Regions from separate parts of the Homo sapiens genome. Here all the other regions are linked to region 3. The links come from fine-mapping of genetic effects on gene expression. A gene starts in region 3. Each other region holds a variant in brackets. All regions are shown on one strand. Distances are from middle to middle. Region 1 has its middle 95 kb from the start of PDE4D-AS1. Region 2 overlaps PDE4D (phosphodiesterase 4D). Region 3 holds the start of PDE4D-AS1 (PDE4D antisense RNA 1).

Region 1 (11,584 bases), 95 kb after region 3:
CACTGGGAGCACACACTTTGGCCCCAGGTGGTAGTTGCTGGTGGGGTAGCCTGTTCTCAGGGTGCTTCTAAATGTACGGTACCCTGCTGATGGGGATGGTGGGTAGCTTCCAGTGGCCCCCACATTGGATATGGAGGCAGCAGCCAGCAGCAGCAGGGTCTGCGTTAGGGGGAGGTCAATGGGGCTCAAGGAATCTGGAGTTGCAAGGTCTGTGGGGTCCCAGGGTAGGATGCAGTCTGCTGGGCTTTCAAAATGGTACCTTGCTGGAGTGCCTTAAGAGTGGGGTAAGAGGGAGGGTGGGTGGGGTGACCCAGTGTGAGCTCCCCATATGAAGCAATGCCATCATGGGGTCTCCAGCCAGTGCCCTATGTCCTAGCAATTCATTCTTTGCGCTCCTGGCATTCTCAAATGTTTTGTAGATGCCTTCTTGTAGCAGCCAGTCTCGTCCCTTTTCTTGAAGTCAATGAGCATCAAATGTGTTCAGGATTCATGAAATAATTCTGACAATAATTAGTATTTTTTATAGGAATTGGAACATGGTTTATTGCAGTATACCGCAGTGTTTGTCAGCTCTAGAACTTACGAAGAAGAGGAAGAGGAGAACAAGTTTGACTCCTGTGAACGTTTTTCCTTTTTTCTCAGGGCTTGTGTGGGTCAAAGGACTCTCCAGTGGCTAGGATTGCAGGAGTCCATGGTAGGAAGGTGGGCCACTGGGGGCTACTCACCTACTCTTTCCTCACATTAGGGAGCCCCTCCAGACTCCCTGCTAATCCCAGCTGAGCAGGCTACTTCACTTTCCTCTTGTTTTTCATGCTAGGTGTCACTTCCGTGTTGAATTCCAGCCTTCTCTCTTAGGTGATCTATTTTTATTTTACAAGTTAGAAATATAAGTGCAGAGAAGTTAAAACAGCAAATCTGTGGCTTCCAAGAGTGGCAAAGCAGTTTCTAGCCTATGTTGGCTGAGTTTTGACCAAGCCTCTGATATGCATACACATATATACATGTTCATGTACGTGTACTTAAAACATTTTTATTCCCATGTTTAAGGCTAGTTGAATAGGGGTGAACACAGAAAATCCTAGCAATTCATTCTTTGCACTCCTGGCATTCTCAAATGTTTTGTAGATGCCTTCTTGTAGCAGCCAGTCTCGTCCCTTTTCTTGAAGTCAATGAGCATCAAATGTGTTCAGGATTCATGAAATAATTCTGACAATAATTAGTATTTTTTATAGGAATTGGAACATGGTTTATTGCAGTATACCCCAGTGTTTGTCAGCTCTAGAACTTACGAAGAAGAGGAAGAGGAGAACAAGTTTGACTCCTGTGAACATTTTCCTTTTTTCTATAATTTACGCATATGCTAACAAGCAGCTAGTTTCAAAACACAAACTTACCTTGACAGGAACTAGGTCTCACTGTTGAGAATGTAGTCTCCTCTCTCCCCACATAGCCCTAGGGTTATTCAGGATGAAGGAGAAGAAAAAACATACCCAAGAGCATTTTATAATTCCATCCTTCCTTCTTGTTATGCTAAGGTTACTAGTACCATGACCTATGTGAACTCGTTTTCTTGAATAAGAAGAATAAAAGCGTTCCGTCCATCAAGGAAGACCTCAAGAGAAATTCCAGGTTCAGGTCTCATGGTACAAGAGCCAAGTGTTTCTTCCTGAATCATTCCCAGGCCTGCTTTTGATCTGAGCAGTGGCTTTCAAAAAATATGCTGATGAGATTGCTCTCTCACTTAAGAACTTAAGAAAGAGTTGAAGTTCTTCAATGTATATCCCCAGCCTGAAACTTGTCTTGAGGAAGATTTGTAGTAGTAATGAAGGGTGACAGTAACCTAAGGGTGAAGAATGTAGAGAGATTTTTCCCAAGAGCAATCCAAGATACTGCTTGAAACATCCGGGGTCCACTGACATGCCCCTTGGACTCCAGGAGAAATCTGGAAATGTCTGGACCTGCAATGAGACACACCCAGCTTCAAATGTGTCACTCTGGGCATATTCTTTAATCTGAGCTCCAATTTTCTTTCTTGTAAGAGTCATTACACATGGCTGTTTTATTTACTAATTCGTTTTTTAAATTAAAGAAATAAATTTGTAGGAGTAATATAGTTACATTGTTTACAAGTCAAATTCTTACATGGCTCATTTCCATCCATTTCATGGATGTGTTACCTTCTGGTATTTATTAGAATTTGCTTTAGACTTTCTGTTGCTCACCTCACAGTTCTTGTGTCATCTTAGTTTCTTTTCTGTTTTTTGGTCTTTTATGCGAGAGGTTTTCCTCACATTGTCTGATAATCCTTGGCAGTCAGTTCGTATTGAAGAGTTAGACATTAGAAAGCCAAGTGAAAATCCTGTGTGTGTACAAGGTTTGTTGACTGGAAAGCTTCATGGGGATATTCTTGCTTGGACATTTCACTGAAGGACATCCAAAAACCTGTTGCCGTTTTTAGATTTTTTTTCTTGGATTGTTGGTTTTCCTGGTGATCTTACTCCAATCTCTTTGGTGCCATAATTCTACCAGCTGAGTATGAGAAGGAGCTGGGGTTTCTCAATGCAGAATATGTACTTGGTTCTAATATGGTAGTCTGGTTCTAATATTGTAGCCTTTTTCTCAGCAATGGTTGCCACATCTGAGTCCTGAATCCCTTTGGAATCAGCCTCTCCAGAGGGTGTATGTTTAGAACCGGCGTGAGTGAAAGGTAGTCATCCAATGACATGAGGTGGGTGAAAATATTTTAACTGCTTTATTTATAAATTTTCAACTGACCCTCCTGTTTTTGAAACCCACCAGTGTCCCCACTTCCATAAGTCCCTGGATCCTCAATTTTCCAAGTCTTCCTGGAATTCTATGGAGTAAATTAGCTTACTGATGCATTTCCCTTACTTGCCTTAGGTTTCTGCTCACTCTGTTCCCAAGTCAATTATGACCTACCTGGCTGCTTCCAGTTTCTGAAATGTTGTGTGTCAGCTTCTTTTCCATTGCCTTTGTCCTTGCAAGCTTATGCCATTTTAAAAAATTCTTTTGCTGTCGTTTTTGTGGAGAAATAGAAAAATATGTACATTCAATCCCCATGTTTAAGTGGAAGTCCCTCATAAAATTATATTAGAAATTTATTAGAAATATATACACACATATGAATATAGATAGATATACACTCTCTTTTTTAGCATACATAGTGCCTGTTATTTAGCAGGTACTAAAAAATAATATGTATATGTATATACATGTAGCAGAAGGCTAACAGGAACTTAGATACACTCAGGAATATATGATAGCATGGAAGGTTGGAACGGTGGGCCTGTGCACAATCAAGTCATGAGGACTTAGAAAAAGACGGAACCATGGCTGGGTGCGGAGGCTCATACCTGTAATCCCAGCACTTTGGGAGGCCGAGGCCAGTGGATTACCTGAGGTCAGGAGTTCAGGACCAGCTTGGCCAACATGGTAAAACTCTGTCTCTTAAAAAAAAAAAAAAAAAAAAAAAAAAAATACAAAAATTAGCCAGGCATAGTGGCAGGCGCCTGTAATCCCATCTACTCGGGAGGCTGAGGCGGAGGTTGCTGTGAGCCAAGATCGCGCCATTGCAGTCCAGCCTGGGCAACAAGAGCAAAACTCAGTCTAAAAAAAAAAAAAAAAAAAAAGAAAGAAAGAAAAGAGAAAAAGAAAAAGAGAACCTGGCAGGATTCAGTAATTAAGCCAGAGTCAGAAGGAGAAGTACTTCTCAATACAGCATGGTATCTTCTGTTTTTTAGACACGGCTCTACCCAGCTCAATTGATTCATGACTGTGTGGGTGTATTTTGTTTTGTTTTTTCTTTTTCAGACTTTGTCAACAGGAAGTAGGTGCCCATGTTGTTGATAGAAAAGCTTGTAAGTAGGACTGCACAGACTTGGTTTTGGTTCAGCATTTGGCAATAATCAGTCTTTCTGCTTCAGCCTTCAGAGAGCCCACTTCATCATTCTTTCTGGCATCCCTGTGATCATATGATTACATATCTAATCAGTGTAACAACAACAGCTACTTAAAGAAGGCATGCCATTAAAGATATTGTTAATATCTCTACATTGCCTTTCAAACATATGTAAGCATTCTAACTTGGAGTGAAATCTTCTTAGGTGCTTTATATGTTGAAATTCTACCAGTCAGCTGAGGAAGAAATGTATACGGCTTATCCCCAAAATAAGATATTCCAACAAATAATGTTTATGAGAGCTGTTAATTTATGTTAAAAAAAAAAGCTATTAATAAAATGTTTAAGTAATTAAATTTGGGAGCTTGATTGGCAGTAGGAATATTAAGAGGATTAGCTAGATAACTAATGTAGAAAATAATATAATTGTATTGAGTCAACAAAAGCTTATATAGATTTAATTACTATGATGATATTAGATTACTTCATAATTAGAATCTTTGTAGAATTGTTTTGGTATAATTGCATTCACAATACTCAAAAAGTAAGCTTAAAGAATGATATTTTTAATTATTTAATTCCAGTAAGTCATAAGTCTTATTTTTTGCATTATATGAGGCTGAATTAAAAGCAGAATGCCATCTGACATTTCAAAATTTCATGGAGAGAAATGTATCTGAAATCATATACACCAAAAAGATAAGTAAAATTTGATAGAAAAAAATGAATGTATTTTAGCTGAGTTCTGACATGCATTTTATTCACAAATCAAACTTCAGAACACAGAAGACAATTTCTTATTTTGAATTTATAGAGACTATTCTAATATTAAATTGATTTTTACAAGCTAGCAAATATTTTCAATAGTTGAAGCTTCGGAGTTTCTCATTTATCTAAGCTATGTAAATGCATGCAAAGTTTCTTCTAGAAAACAAATTACTGAAAGACATTTTCCTGATTTGTATTTGGCTGTGTTATTCCCCAGAAGGTGAAATTATTAAACATGCCATTCGAAAGCCAGTAACTCCTTAGTACAGGTTGAACATCCCTAATCTGAAAATCTGAAATCTGAAATGCTCCAAAATCTGAAACTTTTTCAATGCCAACATGATGCCACAAGTAGAAAATTTTACACCTGATCTCATGTGATGGGTACCAATCAAAACTTTGCTTCATGAACAAAACTATTTTAAAATATGTATAAAATTATCTTCAGGCTATTTGTTAGGAAATAAAAATAAAACTCTAAGTCCCTCCGACTGACCCAGCGGATTCTCTCTTGGCCAAGGGAACCCCAGCAAAACCTTGGAAGCTGAATTCATGGCTATGATGGGATGGGAGATTTGGCATATGCCTCATTATATCCCCACCCT[C/T]GCTAACAGTCGTTAGGTTTTCTTCCTTAACAGCTAAACAGAAACCAGCCTTTCCAAAAGACTACTAGCTTATCTTCCCAGATACGTAACAGTCCAGATGAGATTCATTATGTTCACCTTATTTTATGTAAGATGTAGATTTACCAGGCACTAACTAAAGTTTTACAAGTATGTAATCATTTGTCTCACTGCTGCCCCACCACCTCCCCTGCCTTTTAAGGAAAATATATAAATACTAAACCTCCTAAGAACCTCTTTGGAAAAAACAGTCACACATGCTTCTGTGACTCTCTATTTTCCCAGGTATGCCTTCAAGCTGGCTCAACAAAGCTTGATGCTTTGAAACTTATGCTTCAATTACTCATTTCAGTTGTCAGTGTAAAAGGTGTATATGAAATAGAAAAGAATTCTGTGTTTAGACAGTTCTCATCAGTGAGATATCTCATTGTGTATATCCCAAAATATTTCAAAAAAATGAAATCCAAAACACTTCCAGTTCCAAGCATTTAGGACAAGGGATATTCAATCTGTATCAGAAACATGCGATGGTGACCACAAAAGGAATCTGGCAGCTGAAAATTCTGAGTCACTATCATGTCAAACTATAAAAATTTTATACAACTTAAAAAAAAAACCTGCACTAATCATTAATTTATATTATTGTTAAAATTATCATACAGTAAAATTGATTTTTTTTCCTTTTGATGTACAGTTCTGAAACCACCTTTGCAAAAATTGCAACACTGAGAAAACTTTGACAGTGAAAGAAATTTGACCTAACCAACTCCACATTGCCTTTAACCTCCAAACTGCCCTTCATTCCTGGGCATGGCCTAAGCTAACTTTGGGAGAAATTTAGGTTATAGTTTAAATGATAATAGCTCTTTCCAAAACTAAACTGCCTTTGTAAAACTAATGAAAGGCCACCAGTTTACGAAGATAGGAGGGCCTGAATTCTGCTAAGATATAGGCATAGTTAAGTGATTACCAGCCATTATTCCAGAGGTCACAAGATTTTCAACTTCCTCAATTACTCCTGTAAATAACGTTACTATTGTAGAACCTAAAATTACTATTGTAGAACCTAAAGTTGACCTTTTGAGATGTCTTGTCAGGCTTTTGCATTTCTGATGACCCAGTGTCCTGAACCAGTGACTCCTCTGTGGACCCTTACTGGAAGCTGACTCAGGGCACACGAGGACCATTTTCCACACCCATATGATTGCATCCCCAACCAATCAGCAGCACCCATTCCTTTGCCCACCAAATTACTCTTGAAAAACTCTAGCCTCCAAATTTTCAGGGAGGCTGATTTGGGTAATAATAAAACTCTGGTCTCCTGTTTAGCTGGCTCTATTTGTATTAAACTCTTTCTCTACTGCAATTGCCCTATCTTGATAAATCAGCTTTATCTGAGCAGCAGGCAAGAAGAACCCATTAGACAGTTACAGTTCTGTAAATTTTAACACAAACATTGTTCATGTAACCACCAGTAGGATCACCATCTGGATCAGTTTCACCACCTAAAAAGCTTCCTCATAATACCCTACTCCATGACACTAGGAACAGCTACTAGTTCTCCATCCCAATTGTTTCATCTTTTGAGAAGTTTATATAAATGGAATTGTATAGTATAATCATCAATTTTAAAATAAAATTTCAGATGTATTCACATTCCATAAGTGTACTCTATGATGCTGATATTTATCTTTAGCCTCAGCTTATGCCAAACTACGCCTTTCCATATATGGCCAAAATGTGTATTCAATATACCTCTAACTGGGAGGATCAATTGAAAGTGTTGTTTTACTAAACTCTATAACACAAAGGAATTCAAGGATACCATAGGGATCATTCAACTGATTATAACACAAAATGGGGAGAGCCAATTTCCCTGTCCCCAGAGACCTCTGGGCAGCTCTAGCTCCCTGAGGGAGCCAGCACAACAGTGGTCCCTTTCTCAGGAGATACCTGGGACACCAGGCAGTTCCTCTTAGACCTTCTGGGAGAGGGGTTCCCAGCAGACGCTGGATAGGAGCAATAGCACTGAGAAGGGGTAGCAGAAGCAGCAGTGGCCTTGACTTGTGTATGTGCACATATGCAAGGAGCCCTTGCGAGACTCCCTTCTCCCCAGGTAGTAGGGTCTTGCTTGCCTTGCTAGTGGCAAGAACCACTAAAGTTTAGTTGTTACTGTTAACGTAACCCTATTTCTACTTACAATGTGGTGAGGCCTTGGAAAACCCAAGTTATATAAACATTTGTCTTAGTTCATTTAGGCTGCTTTAACAAAAATACCATAAACTGGGTGGTTTATAAACAACGAACATTTATTTCTCACAGTTCTGGAGGCTGAGAAGTCCGAGATCATGCTGCCAGCAGATTCACTGTCTGGTGTGGTCCCATCCCTACACAGTGAAAGCAGCAAGGTCACTTTCTGTGCCTGATTTATAAGGACACTAATCCCGATCATGAGGACTCAACCCTCATGACCTAATCACCTATCAAAAAGCCCCATCACCTTAGGGTTTAGGATTTCAAAATATGAATTTTGGGTAGACACAAACATTCAGACTGCAGCAACATTCAATAGAGGCAACTCACCTACCAGGAGGCAACTTTTCATTCTGATGCCCAGGTATGACAGACCTCAAATCTGTTACCGTCCCATGAACCAGGAATTATACAAAGGGTAGAGGGGCATAGCTCTGGGTGAAGAGCTGCACTCTGTTCACTCTGGGCTCTGTGTGGTGGTGTCCCAGGTAGTGTCAGTCCAGCTGTTAAGTCCAGTGAGGCTCAGAAAGGTGATGTCATTTGTTCAAATCTTCCAGCTAGTTTGTTGGTCAGATCATAACCAGACCCTATGAAGTCTAATCATACCCAGTTCTGTAGGCTTTCCTCTTCAATAGGTCCATTCTTATCTCTAACTGAGACCACCTGCATCCTCATAGCTTAACTATCAGTATGGAAAACAAACCATCTGTGTCACTATGACTTTACTATTTGTTCAAGAAAATTCTTGTCCAGGAAGATAAGACGGTGTACAATAAATAACATCAATGTTTACTTCAGAAAATTTCTGAAAACCAATTTATTCAGATGATAGATTGCTCATTTGAAAAAATAAACCCCTTTTCAGGACAACAGATTCCTCTCCAAGTCTAATAACTTGTTTATCAAAGATCTATTTTTCAGGACTTCAAGACCCTCTTATCACAATGTCCACCAATTCTAAACTATAATATCATGAACTTTGCCGAATTTCCACCAGATTTCTTCCTTGAAAGGCCTGACTTTAAACCACTTGAGCTCAGACCCTTAATGTTTATAAATATCTACCTGTGACCTCTCCCTTTTGAGAATTATAAGGACTTTTTCAAGGTGTTGCACTCTCTTACTGCAGGTTAATAAACTTAGCTTTGTTTGATCAATAGTTTATTCTGATGGTCTTCTTTGAAAGTCAGCAATCAACAGTTCTGGGGCCTCAGTAGGATTCACTCAATAATTTCTGCTCCTGCAGTTTAAGAACCTTAGCCCTAAACAGTGTGTTCTTCTGAAGTTTGCCATTTGGAAGCCTCCCCCACTGCAGTGTTAAGGTAAGTCTCTCATTGGATTTGAGTCCCGGTGTCCTTTCCATAAAGCTCTTAAATTGTTTATTTTTCTTCCTAGAAATAAGAAACTTTTAAGAAATTCCTGGATTATCTGATCAGATTTGAAAATGTTTATTCTTTGTGGAAATGTTTTATTACTAGTAACATTACTCTTTTTGTCTTTTATCCTATTTGTTGTGAGTCTATGAGAAGAAGCTCACAGGGAAGAAGACAGCCGTAGACCTGGCAATTTTGTCCTCAAACTGGCTCAAAGATACAATAATATCAGCGGGTCTCATCAAACTGGCATTCTTATAGAATAAACTTTGCTCTGGGTCACTTACTAATATCTTACAGAAAATTTATAGCAGCAGTTGTATATTGAGGGTGTGAATAAAAACCACCAGAGAAGCTTTTTGAAAAAATACTATGAATAGATTTCTGCTTCTGGCCAAAATGAAGAAACAGGGACCAGATTTACTCTCCAGTAAACCAGTGGAAAAAAAAACAGACACAATATTGAAAAATAAAAAGATTTTTCAAGACATCAGGCAATGAAGAATAGTGATCCAAGAGAAACAAGAAACAAGATGAATCTTATGTTCGCCACAGCTTACTGTCTGGAGTGAGTATCAAGACTGTGGTACAGAAAGGGAAAACCCAGATGGAACCCTGCCATCTCCCTAAGTGGAGTCTGGGGAGGGCAAAGTGAGTAGAGTTTGCAAGGAAAGATATGGGAAAGGAGACAGCTGTGCAGAGAGAACACTGGGGATCTGTACAGGGTCTTCAGCTGAGCATGAGTCAGCATATGCATGTGAGGAAACTACCCATGACTGGGGAAAGAATCAGCTGGAATGATTACGGGGTATAGAATCCAGGGCTCAGAATCATTCCTGTTTCTATAGGAAATGGGCATTGAGTAGCATACTTGGAAGAATTTTTGCTTCAGTCATGCAGTAACATAGAACTTAGACTAAATACTACTCTGATACCACATAATGAAACTCAAAATAAGACCCAAAAGAATCAAACTGTTTATAAGTAACTGAGTTTCAAAATAAAGTTCAAGAATATTTATAGAAATACCATCTAACAAAGCACAAAATTAAGATAAAGGGTCAAACTATTTGCAAGTAATTTTAAGTGTGTTCTAGAACAAAGTTCAAAAGTATTTATAGAAATACAAAAGGATCCAAAAACTGTCCACAAAAATATGACCCATAATGAAGAGAAAAATCAGTCATTTGAAACTAACCCAGAAATGACAAAGATGATAGAATCGGCAAAGACATTAGAAGAACTGTAATTGTACTTCGCATGTTCAAGAAGCCAGAGGAAAGACTGAACATGGTAAGCAGAAACATGGAAGATATAAAAAGACTAAAAATCAAACTTTAGAGATGAAAACATTATGTGAGATGAAAAACACACTGAGTAGAATTAAAGGCAAATTGGAAATTTCAGAAGACTAGTGACTTTAAGAATTGAGAGATAAAAAGTACACAAAATGAGAAACAGAAGTGTGTCAGTGAGTTATGGGACAACTTCAAACTAATGCGTAAATTGCAGTCCCTGAAGGAAATGAGGGATATGTTGGAAAAAAATATTTGAAAAAATAATGGCCAAAAATCTCCCAAAGTTTATGAAAACCACAGATTCAAGAAGGTCAACAAATTGCTTAAAAATAGAGAAAGTCTAATATTAGGATACAAGGTCTTGACCAGGTGTGGTGGTTCATGCCTGTAATCCCAGCACTTTGGAAGGCCGAGTGGGAGGTGAATCACTTGAGGTCAGGAGTTCAAGACCAGCCTGGCCAACATGGTGAAAGCCTGTCTCTACTAAAAACACAAAAATTAGCCCGGCGTGGTGGTGCACACCTATAATCCCAGCTACTCGGGAGGCTGAGACAGGAGAATCACTTGAACACAGGAGGTGCAGGTTGCAGTGAGCCGAGATTGTGCCATTGCACTCCAGCCTGGGTGACAAAGTGAGACTCCGTCTTAAAAAAGACAAAAACAAAAACAAAAACAAAAAAATGGAAATAAGGTCTCAAATTAATAACTTCAGCTTACACCTTAAAAAAAATTAGAAATATCATTAGGGTCAGCAGAGCATAGCCATATGTTCCAATAAAACTTTATTTACAAAACAGATGGTAAGAGAGCAGATTTGGCCTGCTGGCAATTGCTTGCTGACCCTGGCTTAATCTTGTAAGATTGTGCAGCAAACAAAGAGACCCTAAAATTAGGCAATTTGGATATTAATCCCCCTCCGCTGAGTATGGCTACTCTGGCTCTTCAAATTAGGGATGGGATCTGTTCTCTTGTTTTAATCTGGACACTCTTGGCTCCTGGCATAGAAGTCTCACCATGACTCCTCACTGTAGCATCACTCTGTGTTACAGCGCTCAAATGCATGAACTCAGTCTTAAAAATGCTGCTGCGCAGCCATAGCACTGTCAAATCATCCAACCAAATGTCTATCCGACAAAAAGCAGGAAAATTGCCTACCAGGAAACCTGATTCATGATCACACCACAAAGTACAGTGCAGATTCAGATGGATCAAGTCCCCACATGGTAATGGCTATCCTCCATCACAGCTGAAGAATGATCACACAGAGAACCGAGAAATGAGTCTCCCGCTTCCTCCTGTGGGTTAACTCATCGATACTGAAAACTGAGACCACTTAAACGTCAACAAGAA
Region 2 (5,000 bases), 41 kb after region 3:
AATGTCTGATTACTCTTGAGCTCAATTCTGGATTCCTAAGAGCCACTCATTCCTTTCTTAACTTTGTGTACAGTTATTAAAATGTTCTGTTCTGGCTGGGCACGTTGGCTCACACCTGTAATCCCAGCACTTTGGGAGGCTGAGGTGGGCAGATCCCCTGAGGTCAGGAGTTTGAGACCAGCCTGGCCAACATGGTGAAATCCCGTCTCTGCTAAAAATACAAAAATTAGCCAGGCGTGGTGGTGGGCGCCTGTAATCCCAGCTTCTCGGGAGGCTGAGGCAGGAGAATCGCTTGAACCCGGGAGGCAGAGGTGACAGTGAGCCAAGATCGCACTACTGCACTCTAGCCTGGGCGACAGCGAGACTCTGTCTCTAAATAAATAAATAAAATATTCTCTTCTGATCAAAATACAGATCCTGAGTTCTATATACAAAACACTGCATTCCTTATGCATACACAGTGCCCTAGCTTTCACATTTCCCTCCCCCCAGAATTGCAAGTGGTCCCACCCCTAGATTTTGAAGGTTTTAGAACTCTGTCATACATAACAATAGAAACAAAAGGAGCTGAGAGCAGCCATGGCACACAGGTGAGGGAATGTGTCATTGCCATCTGTGCCATCTGTGAATTCTGGACATTAGTCGTATTGTTTAATCCCTATGCTTTTATGTTGGATGAGGGGAGAACTACAGTCATTTCTACATCACCAGGGAGCCACTTGTTTTGGATTTGAGAGAGGGAAGCAATTAAAATGCTCGATTGCCATTTTTGGAGCAGTTTTTATTTGGAAGGAAGGGAAGCCAGAGGACATTAAAATTCATAGAAAATGCCCTCCAAAAGGATGGGCAATTCTTAAGAATGAACTACGAATTTTGAGGAGTTTTATGGTCATTATTCATCACTGCAAGAGGGAAGCCCCGTTCATCTTTTCTCAGGGTGGCCTCAGAGCTGCAGGGATACCATTATTCAATGGCGTTTGTCGGGTGAGGAGAAAGCCTCCCCAGAGGCTGGCCCTTGCCAACCAATCCCAAAGCAGCCTGCACCGAGGCCACACCCCCTCGCCTTATAGGCTAAGAGCTGGAATGCAATTGGTGCAGAGTTGGGGTTTTATGGGAGGGGCTTCTTGTCACTCTTCCCGGCTTCCCTGCAGTTCCTTATTTGGTAGCTTTTGACAGGACTAGCCTTTCTTGCAACTAAGCATCTTGACATACATTATTCATTAAGCCCTGGAGCTCGGGAGAGAAAGATGCAGACCCTTAGATCTTTAGATATTCCTTTATCACGTGGATTTTCTTTATTCAGAATAGTTGCTGAATTTTGTGCCATTCTGGAGTCTTACAAATGGCATGTATTCGATGGGAAGACGGCTGGATGGGATTTAATGCGAGGCTTTCTTATGTATACTTAATTACCAAAAATCTTTAAAAACTCATACTCTGCGTGGCTTGTGGAGGTTGTTAAAGTGTCGAGATTTTGAAGCTAAATACATTTTAGAGCTTACTATATATATACATATATATATATATACATATAATCAATCAAAAATGCCTGAAGCAAACTATTTACTGTCAGTGTCTTGGGGCTACATAAAGGTAAGACTTACTTAGCTTTTGAAAACTCCTTACTCTGATTACAAAATTATTTAGAAAGCTTAGACTCTACTGTAATTTGTTCAAACTATCAGTTATGTATTCTTTCCTTACACATGAACTAGGAAGAAATACGTGTTAATAGTGGTCAAGATAAGATTGTATAACTTTCATCAGTTGTAGTTTGAGTGTTAAAATAGCTTTTTTAGATACGCAGTAGTTCTTCTGTTTGTCATGTGGTATATGTTTGAATTGTGCTTGAAAAATATATGGTAATTAAATACATTCATTGCAAATAAATTATTGGGCCAAATTACTTATACTGATTTATGGATTCCAGTTAGTATGTTGCACATAAAGTTTATAAAATTAATTTGTGGCTGTTTCTAAAAATCTATACTACTTTAACCTGACGAGGAATACGTTTTTTTCACCTTTAGCTATAAAGCCCTAGGTGACATTAAAAATTGACATTACTTAACTATGTAAGTGATACTAAAGTGAAAACTTG[ATTGT/T]CTATTATACTTGCAAAACTGAACAAAGTTTTTATTACACTGTTTTGTGAATCTCAAGAAATGAATTAATAAACAATTCAATAAGATTGTGTCCATGCTTGGCAGGCTTTTTCCATGCCCTGTGGTAACATTAGCATTGTGATCCTGTCTCCACAATAGAAGGAGGTAGAAAAACCTTATTCAGTCCTAAATGAAACATCACTTCACAGATTTTTGGTATTTGAGCCACTCGCTTGAACCTGGGAGCCAATCACAACACATTTTAAAAGATTCATTTTCTGTTACTCTGAGGATTTTTCAGATTGGAGTGTTTGTCGTTTGCTTTGTTTCTTTCTTTTTGAAGGACAAGTTCCCCTTTGTTTTAGAGATTTACTTGAATTCTAAAAAAATTAGAAAACTTATTTCAGTCTTGGTTGTCCAAGTAGTCATGATTCCTTACCTCCCTTTAAATCTGTGGATGATTCAGATTTTTAAAAATGTTTTTAAAATATATAGACTTCCATTATTTGAATTTTGTTAGCCATTTCTTGGCTAAAAATCTTCAGAAATGCAGAAAAGTATAGAGAGTAAATATAAGAAGCCCTCATTATCCGCCAGAATTCAGCTCCTAGCTTTTAGCCAGCTCACAACTGATGTTATTTTTGAAGGGCTTCACATTTGTACTGTGATTATGAACCATTTGTACTATGATTATGAACAATATTGCCAAGAATCTACATATAGAATTTTAGTACGTTTCTTTTTGAGGAAAATTTTTCCTGGACAGCTTTATGTTTAATACTGTACCTTTAAAAACATGTAAAAATAGCAAATATAGATATATTTGGTCTTATGCATTTTGAAGGTTTTATTTTTATACCATCAATGGAGTATTTGTTTAAATAACTTTGAATACTGATATCTACCAAACTTGTAATGCATCACAGTGCAGCATATTCAAATGATTTTTAGCAGAATATTGTCAGGAAAAAATAAGAAAATTTTCTTACTATTGGACCCATACCACCTCCTTAAATATATATTGGGAGGATATATAATATACCCAGTAGCACACTGGCGTGATGTAGAAGTAAAGGAGATTACATTTAAGGACATTTTGTTTTATTATTTTAGTTTGCTTCCTGAACAATCTTAAATGCCTAATGTAAATTGAAGAATTGCAGTTCTGAAAAGCAAAATACAGTATTGAGATTCAACTGCATTTTTACTTTCCTTTATGCCTTAACTGCTGTACACAGACATTCTGATGTATAATGAGAACAAAGGATTCAAAAGCATTCACTTAGAAATCCTCCCGTTTTTTTAGTTGCAACCCTAAATCTGTGTATTGTTTTCAGACTACTTAGGCCAAAAACAATTAGAAATTCATCAATGGAAAATATTTAGAGGTCACTTAAAAAAATAAACTAAATGCTTAAATGGTTCTGCATTTTACAATCGGTTCGTTTCAAACAGCAGTTTAATGTTTTGTCCCTTCTAAATATATTAATTGAGAAATATGATGGGATTTCCCAGAAGAATACATTGTATTAGCTTTAAATCAGTCCTTCCCCCTTTGGTAATTTTATGTAGTTATCTTAGTAAATATTATATAATTATTTTTAGATGAGAGAAGTATCACATTTTTAAATGTTTGTTGAATGATCTAGTGCATTTTTTTAGTACATCTAGCTATGCACTCCAAAACCAATTTGTGAGATCAACTACCAGTTGAGAAAGCACTTATGGTAATTTTTGTGGTTATTCATTTAGCTTTGCTGGACTGAAACTTTTATATGGATAGCAAAAAAGGAAAACAATGTTAATTCCTTTTAGAAAATACCCTTGTGTTATAACTTAATGTACGCTTCAGAATTATCTTTAGGAAATTCCTTAGACCGTCTTCCTAGAGTAGAGAAGTAATTGCTTCAAATATTGTCTTTTATAATTATGTTAAAATGAAATGTTGACTTCCTTGGAGTCCCTTATAAGCCTTGGTAGGGAGGTGGGCATGTGATGGAGGATTTCTCCAATCCATGTTTTTGTGTTTTAAACAAAGGCTGGAAAGTACTCTGGGAATAATGTATATGACCAGAAAGATGAACATGCAGGATGTCACTTATCTAGTCTGTACAATATTTAGATTCCTTTCACTGGCTTTTTTCTTCAGTTATCTGTACTAACTGGCTATTTTGGTGAATTGTTTAAGCAAACTGCCAGGAAAATTATACTTCGTTCTTTATATTCTTTTAGAAAAATCCAATAATATATGTAGCATATCTGCAGGTAGCATCCACATGTTCTCTTTGGGCAACATAATCCTTATACTAGTTTGTGTACAAGTTAGAAGATAAACCTGTGATAACTGGGTCTCTATCTATCTTTATCAATCACTCCCAGAAGGCTTCCCTTGTTTTGCTTTATTGAGAGAAGTGCAAGGAGGGCAGCAGTTCCTGTATAGACTGCTGAGATTCTAGCAATGGTGAAAGCTTTGCCTCATCTCCTATCTTTTATGAAAAAAAAGACTTTGTCATGACCAGGTAGTTCTTAATAGCAACTTTTAGCTCATAACATGAACAATTTTAGGTCAAAGAGATATTTCATTGAATGTGTGTTTAAAATGTTTAGCAGACTCTTTTCTTTGGAATATGCTTTGCCTAATGAGTATATTTTTCCAAGTGTGAATTTATCTGTAAAGCAAATTTTTTTTAATTATTATACTTTAAGTTCTGGTATACATGTGCAGAACGTGCAGGTTTGTTACATAGGTATATACATGCCATGGTCGTTTGCTGCACCCATCAACCTGTCATCTACATTAGGTATTTTGCCTAATGCTGTCCTTCCCCTCCCTACCCGCTCATAGGCCCTGGTGTGTGATGTTCCCCTCCCTGTGTCCATGTGTTCTCATTGTTC
Region 3 (5,000 bases):
GTTAGAACTTAAAATATATGCTTACCCCATTTTATCATCATACTCAAATCCTGTCTGTCAAAAGTGGCTGGTGCATGGCTTGGACATAAAATGGATATTCTGAAGTAAATTGTTCCTCCTGTCACTATACTACCTTCTTAAGAACAAATCCTGTGTATAAAGTGCATGATGTCTTGAAGCATTAGCCAAAACTTTCCTGAATTATTTTCCACATTAAAAAATAACAACTGAAATATAATGTGTGGAGCCACATCCTGTTAGATTTGAAGCCTGAGTCTGAACAGCTTTGGGAACTTGGTGAAGATGGAGGAAGGGGGCAGTTTACTTAGCTACTGGGAAATCACTTGAGGCTCAGGCTTTGAGAAAGTTGGAGTGCAGGGGAGAGGAGCCACAGAAAGCCGAACCTCAGAGGGGACTCCCAGCTTCATTGTAACCAATGATTGAAAAGATGGCACTGAACAAATCCCAGACACAATGGTTATGCATCTTTAATCCACTGGATAGGCTAACTATGGACAGCTCAAATGATCATAAAACAAGTCAATGTCCTCTTAAAATTTCCTACATTCCTATATTATGGGAATGAGAGAGAGAGGAAAATATCAAAACCAAACCATATAGTAGATGCACTACCATGGCAACTAGGTGATGCTATACTTGCATATGGAAGTTATTCAGTAAAATGAAAATGATTGTGTTAGAGCCATAGGCGAAAGTATTGTTTGTGATCTTTAGGGTGTGGGGTTACAATGGACTTCCTATATTTGTGTGTAATGCTTCAATTTTTATAACAAGCATGTAATATTTTTTACATTCTTAGAATTGGGGAAGCTATACAGAGCAGGTATTTTATATTTACCATTTAAAATTATTAATATCTTTAAGCTTGTTAAGGGGGAAAAAAAAGCTTCAATCTGAAACTTTAATTCACCTGGCAAGGTTTAGGCAGTTGTTTGTCCATCTAAAGTATATATTTACATAGACTGCGGGGTGGAGGAAGTAGAACAAAAAAGAGGCAAATTTTAACCTAGAGTACTCAAAGTGAACAGTAAATAGTTCAAGTATTCTTGATAACAATAAGCCACGTGGCACATGTAACAACTACTTTAAAAGTTACTCTAACTTTTACAAAGTTCACATAAAAAGCTATCTCAAAAATCCCAGGAGCCTAAATTCAGTCCATGAACTTTATTTGTTGTGCCATGTTAATTTATGGAGTCTAAATTTCAAGGGCAGAATTTCTTCTCCAATACCTGTAGATTCAAAGACAAAGACAAGGGATCCCACCACTTAGTGTAAGTTTCTCAGTATCTTCTTTCCACTCGACAATGACAAAGTTTTATCAAATGGACCCTTGGGAGTTTGACTTCTCCTCACTATGAATGGTTTGCTTATTGCATGCTAATGTAGAAAAGTTCTCCCACAACTGATCTGCTTAGGGACAGTGTCCCTGGTGCCCTGGGTCAGCCTTTGTAAACAGAACAGGCTTTTCTGTATGCCTTTGAATATGGTCTTTCCGTTTTCTCAAAATTGTAGTGTACTCTGCACATGGTGGGTAGAAACACCCTTCCAGATTTTCTTCCTTGGCCCAAGATCATCTAGGTCTTATGCAATTCACAGGGGAAAGGAGTAGTATGCAGGACATGCGTAAATTCTCCTTACCATGTGGTTCTTTCACATTGCTGTTCCTTTAAGAGAACTCTTAGGCAATTCGGCATATGAAAATGCAGCCTATTGTCAAATTTGTGAATTATAAAGCGTTCCGACCCCACAACATTGTATATTTTGTTTGCTTGTTTCTGTCCGCCCCAACATTTAGAAGTCTGGTACTTAGTAGGGACTGGGCTGGGTAGAAAAAGAATGCGGTCTTAATTCCCACAACCCTGCCTCCTTGAAGTAGGTGAATCCTAAGCCTTTAGAAACGAACCCCCAGAAACCCTAAAACTTAAACCCTCAGAAACCTTGAGGGTCCTAAATAACCTTGTTTGTGAAACTTCGCAGGAAGCAGCCGGTCGTGGAGTCGCAGAGGCTCCAGCGGTCTGGGCAACCTGGAGGGCAGTGGCTCGGCGGGGCGCGCGGGGTTCTAGCGAGACAGGTGCGCGGCCGTGCGCGCCTGCGTGCCGGTCCCTCCTGAGCCCCGCGGCGGGCGCGACCCCGGACGGCGGACTGCAGGCGCTCCACGCCGGGTTTTCCGCCGCTCTCCTAGCACAGACAGTCCCACAGCAGCCCCACAGACACACACGCTCGCGCCCGCGCCTCCTCGTCTGCACTTCAAAGCGAGTGGCGCCCGGCTGCGCCGGGGGGATGGCACTGCGAGGTGGCGGGGCCCCCGGGGCAGAGCTCGAGGGGAAGGACGCGGCGGGTGGCACGGACAGGGACAGGCTTTTGCAATTCGGAATCTTTTCGTAAGGGGGTTGAGGAGGAGCCAGGCAGCGCCGAGGGCCGAGAGGGGCGTGAGGGGGAGTGTTCCCGGAAAGCTGCGGCGTTGGAGCCGCGCTGCGCCTGCCGCCCGAGGAGTTGAGAAAGAAAACAGGAAACGTGGTGGCCGCGCACCCGGCCGCGGCTGATTCATTCACTTCAAGTGCCGTGCAGAAGGCTCGGCAGGCGGGGCGGGCGTGGGGCCGCGGCTCCGGGTTGGGGACCGAGGAGATCCGGCTGTGGACCAGACGCTCCTCTGCGGGGCGGGCACCCAAGCGCGCTCGCCACCCCCTCGCCATCCGCTAGAGCCGGGCTCCTGGACTGGGACTCGGGCCCGCCGCACAGTTGAAAAGTCGCATAGTGGTTTTTCCGCTCGCGTCGCTGTGTGAAAGTTGGCTCGCCGCTCTTTGCACGCCCTCCCTGGAGGCCGACCCGAGACGCCAAGCTGGAGAGACCGTGCCTCCCCGAGGCCGGCCGCCCCGCGAGCACAGCCTCCGCCCCCGTTGCACTGCCGGGCTGGGCAATATGAAGGAGCAGCCCTCATGTGCCGGCACCGGGCATCCGAGCATGGCGGGGTATGGCAGGATGGCCCCCTTTGAACTCGCTAGCGGACCCGTGAAGCGCTTGAGAACTGAGTCCCCCTTTCCCTGTCTCTTCGCAGAGGAGGCCTACCAGAAACTGGCCAGCGAGACCCTGGAGGAGCTGGACTGGTGTCTGGACCAGCTAGAGACCCTACAGACCAGGCACTCCGTCAGTGAGATGGCCTCCAACAAGGTAAGCCCCGGTTCTGCTGTCACTGGTGCCCCCAGGCTGCTGATTCCCATGCCGGCGAGCCACTGGTACCCATAGCCCCGGGAAATAAATTGAGAGGTTTTTTAGGCTTACTGCATGTTGGCTATTCTGCTCCTTAGAGGGAGGTTCCTGTTTCCTTGCTTTGCCTCCCCTAGTCACGCCAGATAAACATTTTCCAAAAGCAATTTGACGTGCTAAATTTAAGTATCTCCCAAGACACAGGGTTCCTAAGTAACACTGAGCCCTTGCAGCAGAAACCCAGTAGGGTCCATGGGCATTGCATGTTTAAAGGTGTTCTTGGGATTCCCGGTTGAAAATAAGAATTGGTGGATGTCTGTGAAATCACTTGAATGTCACCACCTAGGGCACTCAAACTCAGAAGAGTTCATCGAACTTGGAACCTTCACCCTAATTCATCTAGTTGTCAGGGTACCCCGCAAGAACTGAGCCTTTATATATTCAGTTGGCCATACATATCCGCAGGAAACATTAACAGAGTTAGAAGGTTCCTTATGATCATTACTTTTGTTTCCATTAATCTTGGAAAGAAAGCCCAGTTTTTTGAGGTCATTTAGTACAAGGAGGCTTCAACTAGGCATCTGTGCCATATGTGCTAAGGTGCTGGTCTTGGCAGTTAATGGAGTTTTGAGGGCTGAGAAGTAACCTTCAGCCTGGGACAGCCTTAAAATAGCACGGAAGGCAAGGTATAGTGTTTTCAGTTTTGCTGTATTTTTTGGATTTCCTGTTCTTTTTGTCTTTAGTTATGCAAGGAGATAATTGGAATTGTGTATGTTTTTAGTGGCTATTTGCCTGTGCATGTCGTATGCAGATGGCTGAAGGATTCAGCCAGTAAGGACTGGTAATGTTGTGAGACAATTAGTAATAGTTGCCTCGTCAAGATATTTAAGTATTTTTGGCCACCTATTTACAAGGTCAAGAAGGTTATATTATCTTACAGTTCATCTATGTGCACATATCTTTAAATGAGTGATGCTTTTTTTTTTCTACCTTTCTATGGTTTTTATCCCACCTGTTCTCATGCAGTTTTTACAAAAAGGCCACGGCATAACAGCCACTTGATTGTCTTATCTATTAACAGTGCTTTTGTAGGTAGCATTGTCAAGTGAAAAGTTGGCTTCAAATAAATAAAAGGGGCTCTGTAGACACGGCCAGCAGATACTAACCTACCCATATGCACACTGACCTACCCATGTCCACACTGATGATCAATTTTTTTGTCATTTGTGCCTCATTTCTAAATTTGGCACAGCTCCTCATCAGAATGACCAATTATTGCTCTCTTACTGGGACTTTTACCCCCTGCTGTAGCATTAGGCACCTTTATTCTCATCTGAGTAACAAATTCTTAGTTTTATAAAATATAGTTTGTTTTCATAATTTGATTCTCAATAGCAGTAGACATATGCTGAATATGTCCAGTGTCCTAACTGCTAAATGGGAGCACTTTGCCATGGGCCTGAGTTCTTAATTCTATTGTGTGGTTGATTCTGTGTAAGAAAATGAAGAGCAGAATCAAAAGCCACTTAGCAATGTGCAAGCATTAGTGTATATTTTCAAGGTGATTCGACAGTAGTTTTTCAGCTAAATGAATTTGAGCAGCTAGTTACTTTCCCTAAAATCCATATTCTTAATGTTGAGATCTATGTTTGGATTTAAAACTGAATGTGAAATTTAATAATGTATTGTAAATGACTTCAGCTGTCAAGGAATTAATCTATACGTTAAGATTTAAAAATTTTTTAGGTCATAATAATTGCCTAAAATGATTC

What was found. PIP is the estimated chance that this variant, and not a neighbour inherited with it, causes the effect. A credible set is the group of variants that fine-mapping cannot tell apart.
Region 1: its variant is the best candidate, but not a certain one, in a credible set for the expression of PDE4D-AS1 in whole blood (INTERVAL, PIP 0.76).
Region 2: its variant is the best candidate, but not a certain one, in a credible set for the expression of PDE4D-AS1 in whole blood (INTERVAL, PIP 0.50).

What each region holds. Positions count from the first base shown.
Region 1 is chr5:58,938,675-58,950,258 of GRCh38, reverse strand. No RefSeq gene overlaps it. Among named protein-coding and RNA genes, the nearest start is that of PDE4D-AS1, 95 kb to the left of the region's middle. The variant C/T (reference allele first, on the strand shown) is at 5,293.
Region 2 is chr5:58,996,082-59,001,081 of GRCh38, reverse strand. The region is part of intron 6 of PDE4D (phosphodiesterase 4D); the gene reads left to right. Among named protein-coding and RNA genes, the nearest start is that of PDE4D-AS1, 41 kb to the left of the region's middle. The variant ATTGT/T (reference allele first, on the strand shown) is at 2,102.
Region 3 is chr5:59,037,051-59,042,050 of GRCh38, reverse strand. PDE4D-AS1 (PDE4D antisense RNA 1) reads right to left here and starts at 2,285. Exons shown (of 2, transcript NR_198970.1): 1 at 1,981-2,285. PDE4D (phosphodiesterase 4D) reads left to right here. Exons shown (of 15, transcript NM_001104631.2): 6 at 3,080-3,192. RefSeq lists a silencer at 2,847-2,916.